3 separate regions of the Homo sapiens genome follow, and regions 1 and 3 are each linked to region 2. The links come from fine-mapping of genetic effects on gene expression. A gene starts in region 2. Each other region holds a variant in brackets. All regions are shown on one strand. Distances are from middle to middle. Region 1 overlaps VAT1L (vesicle amine transport 1 like). Region 2 holds the start of VAT1L (vesicle amine transport 1 like). Region 3 overlaps VAT1L (vesicle amine transport 1 like).

Evidence for each region. PIP is the estimated chance that this variant, and not a neighbour inherited with it, causes the effect. A credible set is the group of variants that fine-mapping cannot tell apart.
Region 1: its variant is the best candidate, but not a certain one, in a credible set for the expression of VAT1L in esophagus mucosa (GTEx, PIP 0.76).
Region 3: its variant is the best candidate, but not a certain one, in a credible set for the expression of VAT1L in tibial nerve (GTEx, PIP 0.53).

Annotation. Positions count from the first base shown.
Region 1 is chr16:77,895,708-77,900,707 of GRCh38, forward strand. The region is part of intron 7 of VAT1L (vesicle amine transport 1 like); the gene reads left to right. Among named protein-coding and RNA genes, the nearest start is that of VAT1L, 110 kb to the left of the region's middle. The variant T/C (reference allele first, on the strand shown) is at 2,902.
Region 2 is chr16:77,781,164-77,791,661 of GRCh38, forward strand. It overlaps VAT1L (vesicle amine transport 1 like), which reads left to right and starts at 7,401. Exons shown (of 9, transcript NM_020927.3): 1 at 7,401-7,752. The coding sequence starts at 7,520. The region is part of intron 1 of LOC107984878 (a long non-coding RNA gene); the gene reads right to left.
Region 3 is chr16:77,826,164-77,831,163 of GRCh38, forward strand. The region is part of intron 3 of VAT1L (vesicle amine transport 1 like); the gene reads left to right. Among named protein-coding and RNA genes, the nearest start is that of VAT1L, 40 kb to the left of the region's middle. The variant C/T (reference allele first, on the strand shown) is at 2,191.

The DNA of each region.
Region 1 (5,000 bases), 110 kb after region 2:
TAATTTATTGTAGCAACAACTGGAAACTAATACATACCACTAATGCCACTCAACAAATGCTTACAGAGTGCCTGCCTGCTGCGCGCCAAGCACCGGGCCAGGCTTTGCAAACACAGTTGCAAGTGAGAAAGCCTGGGCCTATGCTTAGGGGCAGCCAGGATGGTGGAAGTGAACAGTCAGACAATTATATAAGCAGGGAACGAAGCCTGGAGGAAGAGAGCTGGGCAGGGCTGAGACCCAGGCCTGTGCCACAGCCTGGGCAAAGGCCTGGAAGTTGGAGAGAAAGATGGAGGTTGGCACATTCAAGGACAGAAGAAAGGTTCATCAGGCTGAGCACAGAGTGATGGGGAGGCTGACCTCGAATGGAGGGGAGAGGAAACGGGATAGGAGGAATTCCCGCCAACCGCCGGAATATACCCATCCCTCTGGCCTTACTGGACCACTGTGATTTTCAGAAACCTGAGACTCTGAGCCTCCCTGCCTTTGTTCCAGTTGTTAACTTGGCCTGCATGCCCTTCCCTCATCCTTGTCCTCCTGCAAAATTCCTGGTCACCTTTTAAGACTCAGCCCTGGTGTCGACTCTTCCGTAAAACCATTCCTCCCTCTTGCCATTATCCCAACCCTGAGTTAGGAGGTACTGCTTTTAGATCCCATGGGCTTGCCTCCCTCATTGACATGTGCATGGGCAATTTCCTGTGAAAAATGGAGAGAATAACGCTACCTTCCTTCGGTTTCTATTTAGAGGGATTAAATGACCTAATGTACAAAAGGTACTTAGCTTAATGACTGACAGAGAGTAAGTGCTCAACATTAGCTGTCATTACAGGGCATTGCAAATGCATTTCCCCCAGAGAGTGGAGATATTTGAGGTCAGGGACTCTTGGCAAGGTGCCAAGGGAGGAGAACACAGGATATGCCCCGCGAAAGATTTCTGGGGCCTCAGGGCATGCATTTTCATCAGCCTGGTGCAGCATCTCCCATCAAGGTTCTAAGCAGACAACTTCATCTACACCAGGAGACCAGCGTGTTGCAGAATTAGGCTTATTCACAGCTCAGCACTCCTTGTTAGGAGTCTGGGAGCTCAGCTCTGAATACATTCCTGTTACAAAGAAAATGCTCGTCCTTGCCTTTACGCCTGTCATTCAGATGAAAATACTTCACAAAACTGGATTTCCTTGTGAGCCAGGGACAGAGTCAACTCACACTGCCCTTGGCTGTGTTTTAAAAGACACAGACCAGGATTCTGCTGTTTCCAAAGACTGGAAAGTTTCTATTTGCCTTTGAGGTTGATGGAGAAATTACTTAATATATCTTATTTGCAGAAAGGCAACAGAGGACCAGTTTCAAGATTTTTCCAAGATATCTGTACTGATATGTTAATCACAGATTCTTTATTTGCTAGACTAAGTAGATAACTGTGCTGCAGACCAAGATTCTTGAATCTTGGGACGTACATTTAAATCAGATAATGCATGAGTAAAAGGTCACATCCTGGCAGATAAACATGCTGTGGATATTACCACTACCCCCACCTCTGGAATCCACACTTCGGTCTGAGCATCAGTTTCCTCCATTAGAAATGGGGATACTACCATGTTCCTTGTTATTGCATAGGATTTATGATTATTGTGCAATCAACTGAGTCCATATGTGGTGAACTCTTGTACACTGTAAACCACTCTGCTGACACGAGGCATATTATAATGTGCAGAAGCAGGTCTGATTGGATGGGGGCAAATTCTTGGTCCAAAAAACTGGTTTTGTTTTTTGTTTTGTGTTTGAGACAGAGTTTCACTCTTGTCACCCAGGCTGGAGTGGAATGGTGCAATCTCGGCTCACTGCAACCTCTGCCTCCCAGGTTCAAGCAATGATCCTGCCTCAGCCTCCTGAGTAGCTGGGATTACAGGCGACGCCAGCCACCATGCCCAGCTAATTTTTGTATTTTTTAGCAGAGTCGGGGTTTCACCATGTTGGCCAGGCTGGTCTCGAACTCCTGAGCTCAGGTGATCCACCGGCCTCGGCCTCCCCAAGTGCTGGGATTCCAGGTGTGAGCCACTGCGCCCAGCCCAAACTGGGTTTCTTAACCCTTCCACTTCCTAGTGGTTTGTCCTGTAGCACTTCATTTTTCTCTTCCTCCTTTTCCTCCCCTATAAAATAGGAACAGCTGACTTTATTTCCCAAAACAGTTGTGTATGAGTTTGCTAGGGCTGTTGTAACAAAGTACCACAAGCCAAGGGGCTTACACAACAGAAATGTGTTGTCTCAGCGTTCTGGAGGCTGGAAGTGTAAAGATCAAAGTGTCTGCAGGGTCTGTTCCTTCTGAGGGTCATGAAGGAATCTGTCTCATGCATCTCTCTTAGGTCTGGCAATCTTTGGCATTCTTTGGCTTATAAGCACATCACCTCTATCTCTGCCTTCATCTTCACAAGGCATTCCCTCTGTGGGCATCTATCTCCAAAATTCCCCCACTTTATAAGAACACTAGTATTGGATTAGGGCCCACCCTACTTCAGTATAATCTCATCTTAACTAATTACATCTCCACAATCTCCATTTCTAAATAAGGTTGCGATGGAGTTGCTGGGAGTTAGGATTTCAACATATAAATATTTGGAAAAGAGGGGGGGGACACAGTTATATCCATAACAAACTATGAGTCACATACGATCAAAAACGGGAGATGCCTTGCAAATTATAAAGGGCTAAAGAGATAAAATTTTGCATGAGGGTTAAAAGGGCAAACTCCAGATTAAGTTCAAGTCTCCCCTCCTCCAGTTATAGCTGTGATTTCTTAGGAGAGTGGCTTCATTTCTTTCCTAAGCCTTGCTTTGCTATCTGTGAAATGAAGATGATAGCAGGGCCTCCTCTGTGGGGTTGCTGTGAAAATATCATGAGGCTGTG[T/C]GTGCAGGGCTTAAGGCATGCCCTGGCACCCAGTACGAGCCAGCCTCTGTTACCAGATCAGAAGGGGTGGGTTGGGTGGGGCCCTGCCTTTCCATCACCTTGCAGTCAAACCTCCCAGAGCTGGTTTCCTCCCTGATGTGCTACTGCTGTGCTGCAAACAGGCTTACCAGTGCCCTTTCCTCGTGCTTGTACTCATTTCCAAAGGCAACTGTGGGAGCTGCTTTATGGAACAGAAGCTCTGAACAGCACAAATGATAAACACATGCTGGTGTTTGCATTCCTCTAACCCTCCAACCATCTAGTCTCTGATTACTAAACTGTTAGCTTGTTTTGGGAGGTTCTGCCAGGAAAGTGCCACGCTCCAGTTAGTCATTTAATAAACTCTAAGTGAGCAGCTGCCAGCAGAGCCATGGACAAATGACAAAGGAGCAATCATGGCTACAGTGTGATATCTGCCCAGAGCCAGGCACTGTGCTGAGCACTTTACATGCATTAGCTCATCTAGACTCATGGCAATCCTGTAGGGAAAGAACTATTATTGCCCCCATTTTACAGATGAGGGCACTGAGGCTTAGAGCATTAAGTGACCTGGTCAAGGTTACACAGACAAAAAGTGGTGGAGCCAAAACTCAACTCTCAGACTGGCTCTCTCCTGAAGCTGTGCTTGTCACCAAGGCCTCAACCCCCTCCAGGAGCGGCGATGACTTTGTCCTGAGCTCTTCAACCTGGTTGCCCCGTCAGGCATCCTGATTTGCAGTGGAGAGATTGGCTTGAACACCCTGGTTCATCAGTTCCTACCTTCTGTGATTAGACAGGTGACACTGCATCTCAAACCTTTCTGCATCTGTAACCCTTGCTCTTCCTGCCTGTTTCAAAGTCTATTGCAAGCAGTGTGTAAGCTGTAAACTGCATGCTGTGTATGGAAATGCCACAGAGTGGGTGCTTGATACAACTTGAGCTTGCTTCTTCCTTTCTACTTCCCTTCCAAAATGTGTGTCATTTTCATAGCTTCCCTAGCACATTCACATGTGTTATCATTCAGTGAGTTTGCTCAACAGACACCAACTGAGTGAGGATGGGGATGTGGTGATTGAGCTCTGTTCCCATGACCAGGAGCTGAAAACCACGTGATGCTCACCCAACCTTTCCAGGGTTGATAAGAAGACCTAGATGCGGAGAGCGGATGTGTTCTCCAAGACACACAACTCTACTAAGTAGTAGCACAGATTCCCTTGACTTTAAGGCCAGTACTTGAGCCTCACCATCTCCCTTTCAGCCTCACCCAAATGGCTACAAATTACCAACTAGTTAGGCTCCAATTTCATTGCATTTTTATTGTTTGGCAGTTGGACATACTCCACATGAGCATGTTTACTTCCCAAGCTACACCGTATGCAAGGCTTTGCTGGAAGTGCAGAGGTGACAATTCAAAGAGGCTATACCTGACTCTACACCTTCTATTTGCACAGCATTTACTTGCCTTTGTGGGGATGAAGCCCCATAGTAAAACCACAGAGATAGGCAGGACAGGTGTTATGTTCATTACACAGATATGTGTGTGTTATAAACATAGACTGAGTAAGGTAATTTGCACAAGGTAGTAGAGCTGGGAATCCAAGCCACATTCCTTATTCCGGAGATCATATGAGTATTTGTGTGTCTGCATATATCTGTGTATTTGTGAGCTTTGCTTATGTGCTTATTTTGCCCTTTCTCCCAGCATAATTTTTTCTATATAGCAATTAAAATAAGCTATATAAATATATAACTACAATATACAACATTTAGAAAATAGGAAAAAAGGGCCGGGCAAGGTGGCTCACATCTATAATCCCAGCATTTTGGGAGGACAAGGCGGGGGGGATCAGGTTAGGTCAGCAGTTTGAGACCAGCCTGGGCAACATGGTGAAACCCCATTTCTACTAAAAATACAAAAATTAGCTGGGCGTGGTGGTAGCTGCCTGTAGTCCCAGCTACTTAGGAGGCTGAGGCGCGAGAATCACTTGAACCCGGGAGGCAGAGGTTGCAGTGAGCTGAAATCGCGCCACTGCACTCCAGCCTCAGCAGCAGAGTGAGACTGTGTCTTGAAAAAAAAAAAA
Region 2 (10,498 bases):
CTCAGAAATTATCTTTCAGTGTGAGTGAAATTTCAAAAACAAACTACATGATTTAAATTCCTTAGTCCTATGTTGTATATTTTCCTCTTTACTTGACCAACCATGTTTACCAAATGATACTAAACAATTGATAAGATCATCTCCACATGGATAACAGCTGCTTATGGAGATGAGTAAGAGCAGGTGAAATGTTTCTATTTCTATTCATACATGAGCAGATTAATAGAGAGCTAAAATGGTGTTCAGGGTCTTATGAGTAGCACTTTTGGTTAGGGTTTTCCTGTTAACATCCATTATAAAATTGCAGCTGGATCCCTATGGAGAGAAAACTCCAACAGGGTGAAAATGTATCTTACAGAGGAGTTGTGAGAGGGAAGCATTGAATCCCAGGGACTGGGATTCTTGGGTAATGTTTTGTTGTAGGGAGGCCATGGGGACTCCTCAATACTCCACACAGACTATCATTCATTTATTTAAAGCCCTTCAGTGGCATCTGTGGAAGATACTGCTACACCTCCTAATGCTATCTGTCCCTTTCCTCATTAATTGTAGAACCTTAGCTTTTACTTGGACATTGTTACTTAGCTAAGAAAAAACTAGGTTTCCCAGCATCCTTTGCAGTGGGATGTGGCCATGTGACTAGGCTCTGGCTAATATGAGATAAGTACATGTATTATGGTGGAGTCCTGAAGTGCCCTTAAGATGAAAGCTGTGGGTCTTTCTTCCCCTCTCACGCATCTCTGTCCTGTCACCCAGCACATAAATGTGATGGCTATATCTTAAACTATGAGAATGGAGGCCAGTGATTCATGACCTGGAGTACAGAGCAGGAAGGAACACTGATCCTTGATGATAATGTACAGCCTCCATCCCATCCTAATGTATTTTATATTCTTTAAGCCAATTTTTATTTTATTATTATATTTTGTTGTCTGTAGCTGAACCTAATACATTACCATTGCTTTCATAGAGAAGCTTTTACCGACCATGCAGATAGCCCCTTGTATTTCCCCTTTACAGCACTTATTGAACTGGTAAATGACTAATTACTTACATGATTTTTTTTTTTTTGGTTTAATATATGTAGCAGAGATGGTCAGTGCCCAACCTACCCCCTCTTGGATCTCATCACTGCCATGCACAGCGACCCCATGGCTTCCAAGTACAAACACCTGCAACTCTTTCAGGACAGCTTTGTCTGGCTGCCTATTCCCAAACAGCCCATGTGCATGGCAGGCTAGAAGTGGCAGATGGCTAGTGCCCCACAGAAACAGTCCTCAACTAAGGACTAACAGGAGCTGGTGGATTCTCCATTTTCTTTGCCTCTTGATGGGGATACATCTGAGATGTGCTCTACGCTGTCTCCTAGAGTTCCCCAGCAGGATTTAAGCAGGTTATAGCAGTGATAACCTGCTAAGTAATACACCTCATATTGGCTTCTTTCCTACCCTGTCTCACCTTCACAGACCTCTTCCAGTGCTTCCTGGGATCACTTCTCAAGCCGTATGTATGCAAATCTTCAAATTAACAAACGTTTGCTCCTGGGCAACCCAATATATACCTCCTCAACAGGGCTGATAACTCCATTAGGACTGAGAATATATTTGTCTTATTCACCATGTTATCTCCAGCATTTAGCAACAGCACAAGGTCACCACTCAAAAGGTGATAAGTATCAGTGCACTTTTTTTCCCCTCAGACACAACTAGAGTTTACCATGTAAGACCCGTCCTACAAAGTGTAGACAGGAAGTGTATACTGCCACCATCAGGATGGGCTGCACACTTCTCTAGCACTTCTCTGAAAAATAATGTTGTGCTCATTGGGAATTAACCACAAACTATAAGAAATTATGGCACAAATCCTCTAATATAACTCCCTGGATTTTGTTAGGATATTTCAACAGCCAGAATCTTTTACCTCTCTCCATTATTGACCTCCTAAATTTGTCTCCTTTTTCTTAACCTATTTGATGGCATTCTTGTGAGTAAAAGAGCAACAAATAAAACCATAAGCATTGAAGTGTGGTGGTTAAGAACATACATTTCAAAGTCAAATAGCTCCCATTTCAAATCTCAACTCTGCAATTTGTTTAGGAAGTAATTCTGGGAAAGTTACTCAGTTTATATTAAATTTTCTCCTCTGTAAAGTAGGGATAATAGTCCTATAGCATAGGATTATTTTAAAGATGAAATATGTACAACAAATGATTCTAATTGTATTGAAGAGAATACAATGCAACAAATATTATTAAAGCATATAGTTAAAGACATTGACCCTCTTCCTTAAATAACATTTCTCTGGGAAGTTACTGAACCATTCCAAATAATTTAGAAAACGATTTCTAAAAGTGTACTGTGTCCAGAATTAGTGGGTTCTTGGTCTCACTGACTTCTAGAATGAAGCCGCGGAGCCTTGCGGTCAGTGTTACAGCTCTTAAGGTGACGCGTCTAGAGTTTGTTCCTTCTGATGTTCGGATGTCTTCGGAGTTTCTTTCTTCTGGTGGGTTCGTGGTCTCACTGGCTCAGAAGTGAACCCGTGAACCTTCGCGGTAAGTGTTACCGCTCTTAAGGCAGCGCGTCTGGAGTTGTTCGTCCCTCCCGGTGAGTTCATGGTCTCGCTGGCTTCAAGAGTGAAGCTGCAGACCTTTGCGGTGAGTGTTACAGCTCATAAAGGCAGTGTGGACCCAAAGAGTGAGCAGCGGCAGGATTTCTTGCAAAGAATTAAAGAACAATGCTTCTACAGTGTGGAAGGTGACCCCAGCGGGTTGCCACTGCTGGCTCAGGCAGCCTGCTTTTATTGTCTTATCTGGCCCCACCCACATCCTGCTGATTGGTAGAGCCCAGTGGTCTGTTTGGACAGGGCGCTGATTGGTGCGTTTACAATCCCTGAGCTAGACACAAAGGTTCTCCACGTCCCCACTAGGTTAGCTAGATACAGAGTGTCGACACAAAGGTTCTCCAAGTCCCCACCAGAGTAGCTAGATACAGAGTGTCCATTTGTGCATTCACAAACCCTGAGCTAGACACAGGGTGCTGATTGGTGTGTTTACCAACCTTGAGCTAGATACGGAGTGATGATTGGTGTATTTACAATCCCTGAGCTAGACATAAAGGTTCTCCAAGTCCCCACCAGACTCAGGAGCCCAGCTGGCTTCACCTAGTGGATCCCGCATGGGGGCTGCAGGTGGAGCTGCCTGCCAGTCCCTTGCCGTGCGCCCGCACTCCTCAGCCCTTCGGTGGTCAATGGGACTGGGCGCCGTGGAGCAGGGGGTGGCGCTCGTCGGGGTGGCTCAGGCTGCACAGGAGCCCATGGAGCGGCGAGGGGAGGCTCAGGCATGGCGGGCTGCAGGTCCCAAGCCCTGCCCCGCGGGAAGGCAGCTAAGGCCCCGGGAGGGCAGCGACAGTGGGCCGGCAGTGCTGGGGGACCCAGCACACCCTCCGCAGCCGCTGGCCCTGGTGCTAAGCTCCTCATTGCCGGGGGCCGACAGGGCCGGCCGGCCGCTCCGAGTGAGGGCCCGCCAAGCCCACGCCCACCAGGAACTCCAGCTGGCCCGCAAGCACTGCACGCAGCCCCGGTTGCCGCTCGGGCCTCTCCCTCCTCATCTCCCCGCAAGCTGAGGGAGCCGGCTCCGGCCTCGGCCAGCCCAGGAAGGGGCTCCCACAGTGTAGCAGCGGGCTGAAGGGCTCCTCAAGCGCGGCCAGAGTGGGCGCCAAGGCCAAGGAGGCCCCGAGAGTGAGCGAGGGCTGTGAGGGCTGCCAGTATGCTGTCACCTCTCAGTACTGATGGTTTCCCATATTTTCTTACTCAGAGACTTTACCTCTATTAGGGGTTCCTATATCTGGCCTTCTACATCCCCCCCCACCCCCCACACACACCCCCACGTGCACATACCCTGCCCCAGACCATTTGCAAGGTAACAGAGCTGAGCTGTAATACTCTGTTTTACCATCAGTGGCCACTGTTTGACATTATGTACAATGATGTACATAATGCACATTATTCTACAATAATGTAAGAAATTCCACAACGGAGGCTCTGAGTGAATGTCCAAGGAATCAATTTTACAAATTAAAAATTGATTTATTGTGTTTATTTGGAGATATGCCATGCACTGTGGCTCTTTCCACGTTCCACCAGGGAGTACCAGAGTTGGGAATATTTAACAATAGTGGTATATAGGACTCAGAAGAGGGTATCTCCCCACCCCCCCACAAGCAGCACAGACTGTGGTGGGTTCTCTCTGGGTTGTTGTGATAATCAGCTGCCTACCAATTATAATCTGGGGTTTGTAAACAGCCAGAAGATTCCCTTGGAGGGAGTAATTATATTCCCTTTAACACACTGTAAGACAAACACTTTCTCTTTAACATGCTGTGTGCTGACTACAAAGTGGGTTTACTTTACTAATGCCAAAGGAAAACAAACACTCAGAACCAAGGCAAGGGACCTTGGTGGTACAGAGATAGTAGGCGGTGAAAAAAAAGAGCAGGGAACATTAAAAAATGCCATGGAGTATTGTCAATCAGGGGCAGAACTGGTTTGGCCTGTCCGTATAAACATGCATGATGAGATCTTAAGAGCACAGATTTGGAGTTGGTCTTCTATCTCATTATAACTAGCATGTTCCTTTGAGCACAATAATTCATCATGTTAAGATTCATTTTCATTTTCCTCTTCCATAAAGTGGGAATAGGAATTCTTACTCATGAGATTATTTTCAGAATCAAATTAAGAAATATACCTACAGTGTCTAGAACAGTAGACACCTCCAAAACAATAACATATATTGCAGATATTATTGGTGCCAAAGCTATGTCTCCATGGAATTCATCATTCCATGTATAAAATGATAGCTTCCTGCAAAGAGCATCCACAATTCTCTGCCTGGGGATTCTCTCAGCCCAAGTACATGGGACAGGATGGAAATGTCAAGGAGTTAACAATTCCAGGAACAGTTCTTGACCAATCAAGCATAGACTTTAGTGAATAAATACCTATGTCCTCACTCCTTGGGTGAGACAACTCTGAGACTTGTTCTACACTGTCTCTCAAATGTCCCCTGCGGGTTTGAGCTCCAATTGTCCACTGCGGTAATCTGCTTATTAATACATCTCATATTGGGTAGTATCAATTTTCTGTCTCACTTTCCTACTTCCCAGCCAGAGCTTCCTGGGATTACTTCCAAAATAAACGACGGGTGTTCAAATTCTTGTTTCAGGACAGAATCCAGCCTAAACACTGTATCTCACAATGTAAACAAGACAAACAATTTGGACAATTGGATTCACAATAAAATGTTCAATTCACTAACCAAGCCCTATTCAGGCTTCTTTTAGCCCTCTTCCTTCCATCCCATGGCCATTGCCTCAGTTGGGACCATTCTCATTTATTTTGTTTCTTTTTGGGGATTTTTTTTTTTTTTTGCCTGCACTTAGTCTCTAACTGATCTCGATGCTTCCAGTAACTCTATCATCTAATCCATCACCCACTTACTGTCAAAGTTATTATCCTAAAATGCAGTTCTGGTAATGCTCTCCCCATGTTTTTGTTTTTTAAGCCTTTATGGCACCAATTGCCTCTGTGATTATGTCTTAAATTTTATAACCTGGTATGTGAGAACTTTCAAAAGCTGGTCCCAATAAACCTTTCAGCCTCATCTCCAATGATTGCTAAATACAGCCAATGTTCTGCCTACATAGAACAAACCAGAATCTCAAAAGCCCTTTTACCTGTTACCTTTCTGTGTTATTTGAATGAGCTTGCGACCTTTTCTGCCAGAAGAACCTGCCTTATCCTTCAAGGTCTAGCCCAAATGTTCCCTCCTCCATGAGAACTTCTCCAACTCTCTGGACCAGTTTTTCAACAGGCTGCCTCTGTGCATATTCTACTATGTACCAATCATGTATTAAGCCCTGGGAAAACCACGCTGGATAAAAGTAGAAATAGCTCCTGCTCACATGAAGTTCACAGTTGGATAAAGGAAACAGATATTATCAGGTAAACATATAAAAGTTGGCTACAAAGGGACATAAGTGTCTATAGTCAGGGAGGACACCAATCTGGAGGTTGGAGTGCCTCCCAACAGGAATGGACCCTTGAGGTGAGAACGAAGTAGGAGTTAACACCAGATAAAGGAGATGGAACACATACCCCAGGCCAAGGGGACAGCAGGTGCAGAACCCTGTGGAAGGAGGGAAAATGGCAATCGTCTTTTTTTTTTTTTTTTTTTTTTTTAAGGAATAGAAGACAAGGGCATTTAAAGCAGTGAGGCACAGGAAGAATGAGGGGAGAGAAGAGGCAGCACTTACATCATTCATTGTACCACATTTGTTGACTGTGTCCTTCATGCCTCATGCTCTGAAATTGACCTTTTCCAATATAAGGACCATGTCTCACTGAAATCATGTCCACCCCAGCACTTCACACAATATAGAAAAAAAAATCAATGTACCCAATTTATAGATGAGTGTGTTGAGGCTCAGGAAGGTTGAATGAGTTGCCCAAGATCTCAAGGCTGGCAATGGCATAGCAACTATAATAGAATATAGACCTACTTCCTCACCTGCATCTCTTTCCTTAAACTGCCCCTAGGAAAACCACGTCCTTCCCCATTATTTTATTTCAGAAATTCCAAGTTTTTCTATGAGCTGTTTTTCTCAAAGAGCCTGATAACAAAACAAAACGCCAGTTACTACTCTGTGTATGTGCATGCATGTTGGGGAGCGGGTACACACTGGTCTTCCGGGGATCAGAACACGAACAGGATCCTTTCTGGTACAGGATTCTTGTCTGAAGCCTCTTTAATAGCCCGAAATGGTGTGGGTGGTGAGAATTCGCCGTCGTAAGGAAGCCCCTGGTGATACCCAGCAAAGAGCATCCCGGCTGACCCTGCAGGTCTGGAGTGAAAAGACCCTGCACTGGACTCTTCAGGGCAGTGAGCGGGATCTCTAGTTCCCTGCTTCCCAAACCTCTCCGCCCTTCCACCCAAAACTGGCTGTTTGAGAAACGACCCAATTTCCCGACTATCCCGCCCAGCCTCGAAGATGGGAGGGAGAGAGGGCAACCTTGTCGCGGTAAGGCATCCTCCAGGCCCAGACATTAGTCTCGGTCCATTTCAAGGCACCCGAGCCTGTGCCGTATATAACCAAGTACTGGGCCCACAGGAAGGGGGATGACAGGGTGGTCTCTCTAGGCTCGTTTTAGTCACAGATCTTCGGCAAATTTGGGTTTAGGGCCGCGATCCCGACCCTAACTTGGGACTATTTCAGGAACTGGAGTTGAGGCTTCGTTGGGACAGGAAAGAAGGGTGGGGCGGGGGTGAAGCGCTTAGGGCACGGCTCTTGTGAGGATTACGGCGGAGGCTGTGGACCGCGGCGGCGCTCGCAGAGGCTGCAGCCATTGCACAGCCGAGCATCCCACATTCAACAGGAGGAACCCGCGGGAGAGGAGCCCCACTCCCCCAGCGCCGCAGCCACCGCAGCCACCGCAGCCCGTGCGCCCCGCGCCCTCGAGCGCCATGGCCAAGGAAGGCGTGGAGAAGGCGGAGGAGACGGAGCAAATGATCGAGAAGGAGGCAGGCAAGGAGCCGGCGGAGGGCGGCGGCGGCGACGGCTCGCACCGCCTCGGGGACGCCCAGGAGATGCGCGCGGTGGTGCTGGCTGGCTTCGGGGGGCTCAACAAGCTGCGGCTCTTCAGGAAGGCCATGCCCGAGCCTCAGGACGGCGAGCTCAAGATCCGCGTCAAAGCCTGGTCCAGTATCCGCGCCTTTCTCGCTTTCTCTCTTTTTGCGCGCTGGGCGCTGGGGAGGGGGTGGGAAAGCTGCGGCTGGGATGCTGCCCGGGTAGAACCGCCGCGCGCACCCCCTCCGCGCCCTCACCCGGGTCTCAGAGCCTCCCCGGGCCAAAGCTGGGGAGGATGCAGAGGGGCGGCCTCCCCAAGCCAGATCTAGGGGTGACGGGAGGAGAATGTGAGCTCCTGGGCGCGGGGAGAATGCTGGCGCCCAGGCACCCCGGGTCTGGAAGATTGCGCTACGGGAGTTCTCCGTCTGAGAGGACAACTCAGCTTTCGCACGGGAGGGTTGATGCTTAACAGAATTAAAAATATATGTATTAAGAACCGCAAGCCCACTGTGTGCCAGCCGCCGTTGGTAGTTTTACACGTGCGATCTTATTTAATACTTCCTGGGACCTAATGAGTCAGGTGCCATCATGATCCGTTTACAGGTAAGAAAGCCGCCGCTCAGCGAGAATGAGTGATTTGCCCAAGATCAGTCAGCTGCCACTAAGTGGCTTGGCCGGGAATTTGATACATGATCTTTTTTCACCTCTATGCTGTTGTCCTGAAGGGCCTGGGACAGGGTGCAGGGCTGGATCCCGCCTCCTGCCCACTTCCTTCCCCGTAGCCTGACGGGGAAAGGAACTAGGAAGGAAGAGGGTCGGTACCTTGCACCCAGGCTTGGTGAGGGTGGAGACCAGGGCTGCAGCGCAACCCCCTCCATGCCCCTCTCCATCCTCTGTTTCTCCGAGAGGGGAAAAAACCCTGATCAGTCTCCCCGGAATTCCTGGTCCCATCTCAGAAGGAGCTCAGCTCTCTAAGCTGCCCTCTATTCCCCATTCCCCCTGGGGGAACTTCTCCAGGCCCTCACGCTCAGCTGAAATTCCCGGGGAGAGTTTAAGCCTCTCTGTGTGCGGGCACTGTAATTTCCCTGAAGTTCTGGGAAGAGCTTACCCAGCAGAGGCGGACTGGACCCAACACTAGGTTTGCATGTTAAACTTGTAAGGGGAACTTGCTATTAATCACGGTGAGACGAGCCTATTCCTTCCCATCTGTTTTCTAGAGCCCCCCAGTACATACTGCTCTCCAAAGCAGCAGCCAGCTCACGAGCTTCTAGGTTAGATCAGAAACCCAATATCTGGACCTCTCTAGAGGCACGAGAAATACAAACGAGGGTCCCCTCCCGTTCACCACCTTGAGAACAGACGCAGGTTTCATCGGCCAGATTAGAAAGCAGCTAGTGGGAGAAGCAGCCGCTGATCCCTGCCTTGCTGCTCATATATGCAGCTGGTCAGGTTTGACTCTGAACACGACTCGTGAGTCTCTGTGGGGAATTCCGGGTAAGGGAAGAGGCTTTTGCAAACCGGGGGATCCTGTACAATAAACTCTTATTGAACCAAGTTGTTTGATCCCAGAAGGAGAGCTTATATCTGCCCTTTCGCAGCTAAATCCCCAAAGACCAGCCCACTCCCCCACCCCACACTGTTTGGCCCACTGCACATCCTAAATAAGTTATCGCTGAATGAATGGATTGAGGAAAGAGCTCGGAGGAGGATTGTTGGGTCATTATTTTTCTTTACTTGCTGGTGGAAGAGCTTTTGCTTAGTACAATTAAAACCATGCATTTAGAACTCTCCTTCCTTAACCACTTCATCAAAAAAAATTACCTGTATACACACACCTATGCATATATGTGCATATACATATATACAATTATATATACAGTTGCATATGTATGCGTATGTAATTTATGACCCTTCATCCAAATTGAGGATGGGATTCTAGGATTCTAGAGTACATATTCAGAGAGGGAAAATGATAAAACTACTTTTTAAAGGAAAGAGCATCATCTGCAGTACACATAGTTCTGTGTTTTCCAGTCTTATGTTAACTGCATAATTGCTGATAGGAACTGAAGCATTTTGAAATAATAAATGTCAAGATGAAGGCCAAGAGATTGATTTTCAAAGCCAGATGTGAAAGCCTGTTCTTCAGTGGCGCTACACACACACACACAGAAATCACTGCACTTCCCCGACCCTAGTTGTTCAGAAAGCCAACCAGGCTGCAGGTACATTTGGAATACAGTGTTGCAAACAGCCCAGATTGATTTTCCTTTCACCAAGCTGGAAGCAGAGTTAATGGTTTTACAAGGAAGGATTGTAATAGGCTTGTAAATGGCCCACTGGGCAGCTCCTTCTCCTCTGGGCTGGGATTGGCTGGCCAGACATGATCATTGATTATAAGTTTTAGCCTTGGGATACAGGATGACTCATTCTGTATTTTTATGAATCAGCCGATGGCTTCCTGGATGATGGTCTCCCTTTTATCTGCTCTCTATTTTTAATAGAAACCTTTTTGTCATAATAGGATATGCTTTTTGCTTGGAATAAAGCATAGTCCATTTGAACCAGTATTAGACAGACCTGGAATGACGTTCCAAGTTGGCTATGAATTTTATGAAAATGGAAGAGATGAGGCAGGAAGAAATATCCATTTTATATCATGGACCCTTTTTCATTAATGCGCCAGTGAGATGGGTATTTTTCCTACAGAACAGAAGAGCAAATTGAGGCTTGGAAACATTGAGTAATTTGCCAAAAACATCAAAAAATAGTAGACTTAGGATTTGAATCTAATTCTCCTTATATTTTTGCTATTTTCCTTTTATTCCATTTTTGTCTCCCTTGGTGGAAAAGCCTTAGCACATGTGATTCCCCTC
Region 3 (5,000 bases), 42 kb after region 2:
GCCACTGCACTCCAGCCTGGGCGACAGAGCGAGACTCCGTCTCAAAAAAAAAAAAAAAGAAAAAGAGAAGCATTCTCAACAGTCTTGGTATCATGATGAAAAGTTGTGTCAATCATTGTAAGACGTCTCACAAGTCATCTACTACTGCTATTATTTGAAATGACAAAATGGTCATTTTGTCAGTGATTTAGTTTTTTCAATAAATTGCAGTGGACTTGAGATGGTTCCCATATTAATGACATTCTTATTAATTTGTATTCTGCTATATTTTCTTGAGTGGGCAGAGATTGTACCAGCACACTAGAAATCATACATAAACCTAAGTACATTCATGAAAGTGGTTGCACATGTCAGCGTCATCTGTCAGGTGTGTCTCTGCCAAGGCGGAGAATGGTGGAAATCAAAATTTCTGCTCTAGATTTCAGGGATGGCAGAAACTTCTCTCATGGTTTGTCTGTGTCTCATTGCCAGGCATTCAGTGTATATTGCATGCCTGCTACATGGCAAGCACTATGTCTGTCATTGGTCTACTGGGGTCTGGGTGGAACGTTAGTGTTTCTGAGAGTGGAAGGTACTACCTACTAGTTCAAAACATATTAATTAAACACATAACATGTTCTAGACTCTGTGGATATAGAGATTAATCCCCTATCTTAGAGGTTTTGAGAGGTTCTCAGAGTCACTGATTCTGTAGTTTGATGAACTCAGAAATAAACTCTTAGGATTTGGTGTATCTCAGAGATATTTCACTGGAGGTTTTGCTAGCATACCGTTGATTTTAAAAAAGAAAAACTTGGCTTTCTGTAACTATTAAAACTCTATATAGTGTAGAGCACATTTCCGTTGTTTGTATCTAAGAAAACAAGCTCACATCCAGAACCATGAAGGCAAAGATAGGAAACTTTAGGAATGCCTTAAGAAAAATATCTTCAATCATTTTAGCAAATTTGCTGATACCTTTCGACCATGAATAAAGACATATAAAAGCTAAGCATCCCGTAGAAAAGAAATGGCTTTCAGTTCCAGTGAATCTGTTAACAGCAAGCAAGCCATTTAGAATGCTGGCATTTATGATCTTAGTGTGCTCAGCATACAAAGTATTAGAGACTTGTAGTCATACTATCAGCATAAGCTTCAGTCTTTACAATGACGCTGGACTCAGTTCTGCTGAGAATTAGTATTTATACATTTACACCTATGATATTTCATTTCATGTTTTTATTTTTATTGTTTTGTTCTTGGAGCAAAGAAGAATGTGTCAGGGGCATGTGTCTTACAAAAGGAAAATAATCTTGGAAAATAAAAAGAAGTTTTTATCGTGCTCTATTCTGGGCTTACAGATGCTACCGACAATACTAACTAAAGTGTAAAACAGGTGAAGGAACTGGGGAAAGTGGACAATGAGGGTTGGAAAATAAGTCAATGCACATAGCACAGGCTATGTTGTCCTAAAGCTTTGCTGAAGTTGTACAATTTTGTCTCTTAGCTTTCTAATAGTGAGTGAAAATAGGGGGAAATGGTCATCCATGTGAACTAGTGTTCATTTGATTGAAATAAAACAGTTACTAGGGGTAACCATAACTAACACTGGTTTTGGGGACCAGAGGACTCTTTCTTTCTCTGTGGTTTCTCATAAGAAATGTATGGTGAAATGCAATAAACATCCTCAACAAAGCTGTTATAGTAAATGCAACTGTTTCCATGAAGGTTTTTCTTACGGTGCACTCTTAATGTAATCTAAGAGCATCAAAGTAAAGCAAGATTTAGTGAGAGCATATATTCTTGGGCCAAAAGGATGTGGTCTGGTTTAATCTTCAGGCAGAGTTGAAAAGTGCAGTTGGACCCATCTCTCAGACGGGCTGGTCTCTTTGAATAGCGTTCTCTGAAACGAGATTTGATAGGTGGTGTGTGGCAATTAAAGGTTACCATTAGAGAAGAGATTTTTGGCAAAGTGCAGATCCACATATGTGAACACTCCGCTGAGCCGGGATGGGTGGGGCACTGTCTTACAAAATCTAAGGAGTCCTGCAGAGAGCCCACACCATCACACTCCCCTGCAGGGAGAGACCAGTGAGTCCCTGGTACCTGTATGTTGCCTTACCTGGCAAAAGGAACTTTACAGGTATGACTAAAGTAAGGACGTTGAGATAGGGAGGTTATCCTGCGTTATTCAGGATGACCCAGTGTCAT[C/T]ACAAGAGTCCTTAAAGGTGGGAGTGGGGGCCGGGCGCGGTGGCTCACGCCTGTAATCCCAGCACTTTGGGAGGCCAATGCGGGCGGATCACCTGAGGTCGGGAGTTCGAGACCAGCCTGGCCAACGTGGAGAAACCCCCATCTCTATAAAAATACAAAATTAGCTGGGCATGGTGGCGCATGCCTGTAATCCCAGCTACTTAGGAGGCTGAGGCAGGAGAATCGCTTGAAGCCGGGAGGCAGAGGTTGCAGTGAGCTGAGATCGTGCCACTGCACTCCAGCCTGGACAACAAGAGCAAAACTCCATCTCAAAAAAATAAAAAAATAAAAATAAAAAAGGTGGGAGTGGGAAGTAGAAGAATCAGAGAGAGAATGAGAGAAGCTACACTGCTGGCTCTGATGGAGGAGGAGGCTGTGAACCAAGGAAGCAGGTGGCCTCTAGATGCTGGAAGAGGCAGGAAATGGATTCGCCTCTTGAGCTTTCAGAAGGAATACAACCCTGCTAAGACCTTCATTTTAGCCGAGCGAAACCCATTTTGCCCTTCAGACCTCTAGCAATTTAATATCCCAAATCTGTGTTTTGAGCCACTAAGTTTGTGTTAATTTGTTGCCACTTATGGGAAACCGATACTACCACTTTCCTGGGGCTGCCTCTCTCCCTCCCTTTTCATTATGGCCCGCCAGCAGAGGCCTGAAGAAAATCAAAGTAGCGAATTGCAGAACTACGATTCGTACCTCAATTTGGCTGATTCCAAAACCTCTTCTCTTTCCATTCAACAGCCCAAAATGTTGGGAGAGCCAGCCCAGATTCTTCAGTCCTTCATTTAACAAATATTTGTTCAACCTCTACCCAGTGCTCAGCATAGATGTTTTCAAGATCCAAAAGACGGGCCCAGGTACATATTTGCTAACTTGGTGTCGATGAGATGACAAAGAAGACTAAACCTAGTAATAGCTGGGGCAAAGTTTCCTAAATAGGGTTATGTAAAGTGTGTAGCCCTAATGGCACCAAGACTTCTGTCCGAGTTTCATCAAAGGCTGAGATGGGGAATTTGCAGACAGCATGTGAGGAATACCAAACTTAGCTATGGTTTTAAGGAAACCTGAATACAGCATGGAAAAATAATTCAATCTGGAGCAGGATACACTCTCATTGGAATTGCCCACTGCCTCCATGCTCTGTCATATCTTTGAGGACATTGTTTTCCTCTGACAATAGCATGACAAGATGGCCCCAAATGGCAGTGCTCTTAATAAGATCTTTAGAAACTGGTTGAAAATTGGGTCACAATCCTTTAAAGGAAAAGTAACAAAATAGGTAACAGAATGAGACTCATGTTGGGCCTCGAGTTTTGTTGCCAGTCCCGTTTAATGAGCCTTGTTGATAAAGCTGCTATGACTCTGAGTCTCTTAATCCGGGTGTGCTCAGTTTCTGGAGAGTGGCATTACTGTTCCTGTGAGGTTATTTGCATTTGTGTCTGATATCTGATGCTTTGCAGTTTTCAGAGTCCTCTTACCTTTATCATCATATCATCTGAGCAGAGATTACTATAGGCAGTAAGCAAGCATCATTCCCATTTTACAGAAGTGGAAGCTGAGGGTTAGAGAAAATGAAGTGAACCTAGGTGCCAGCATGTGCCCCGGCTTCCTGACCCCATTTGATGCTGTCACTGGTCCACCACCTCCAGCCAGCCCCTCGAGGAACATGAGATGCGCCTCTATTCTGTGCCTTTTCAGAAACTGTCTCAGGGAAGATGAGGCAAGATCAGCACTCTGCCCTCCAGCCACCCTGACCTTCTCACTCTACTCAGAACACTCTTTATCTTATGGTGTACTCCTAATGTAATCTAATAGCATCAAAGTAGCAAAATTTGAAGCTCTGAACCTCTGTGCCTTTTCATATGCTGTTTTTTTCTTTCCAAAATGGTATTCTCTCCCAATTCAGATGTAAGCTCCTCTGGGAAGCCATACTGTCCTCTCTTGTCTGGGTAGCCTTAACCCTTTAATAAAAGCTATAGGAGAATCCTTACAGCCTTTTATTTGTCTATGGTTTGATATGGTTTGTCTGTGTCCCCGCCAAAATCTCATCTTGAATTATGGCTCCCATAATTCCCACATGTTGTGGGAGGGACCCAGTGGGAGGAGTCTTTCCCATGCTGTTCTTGTGATACGGAGTAATTCTCACAAGATCTGATGGTTTTATAAAGGGGAGTTCACCTGCACAAGCTCTCTTCCCTGCTACCATGTAAGACATGACTTTGGTCCTCCTTTGCCTTCCACCATGATTAGGAGGCCTCCCAGCCATGTGGAACTGTGAGTCCATTAAACCTCTTATTCTTTTTTGTTGTTGTTGAGATGGAGTCTCACTCTCTCAGGCTGGAGGGCTGTGGCGCAGTCTCAGCTCACTGCAGCCTCTGCCTCCCGGGTTAAAGGGATTCTCACGCCTCAGCCTCCTGAGTAGCTGGGATTACAGGCCCGAGCCACCATGCCCAGCTAATTTTTGTATTTTTAGTAGAGATGGGATTTCACCACGTTGGCGAGGCTGTTCTCGAACTCCTGATCTCAGGTGATCTGCCCGCCTCGGCCTCCCAAAGTGCTGGGATTACAGGCGTGAGCCACCGCATCTGGCCAAACCTCTTATTCTTTATGTTACCCAGTCTTGGGTATTTCTTTATTAGCAGTGTGAGAACAGAATAATACATGGTTCATCCTCCCAGCAACATTTCATGGGCAGAGTTATCATCTACTGAAGGCTGGGTTGTTTGGTAAGAAGAAGACAGGCAAACCTGAATCCAGTCTTCAGCTCTGTC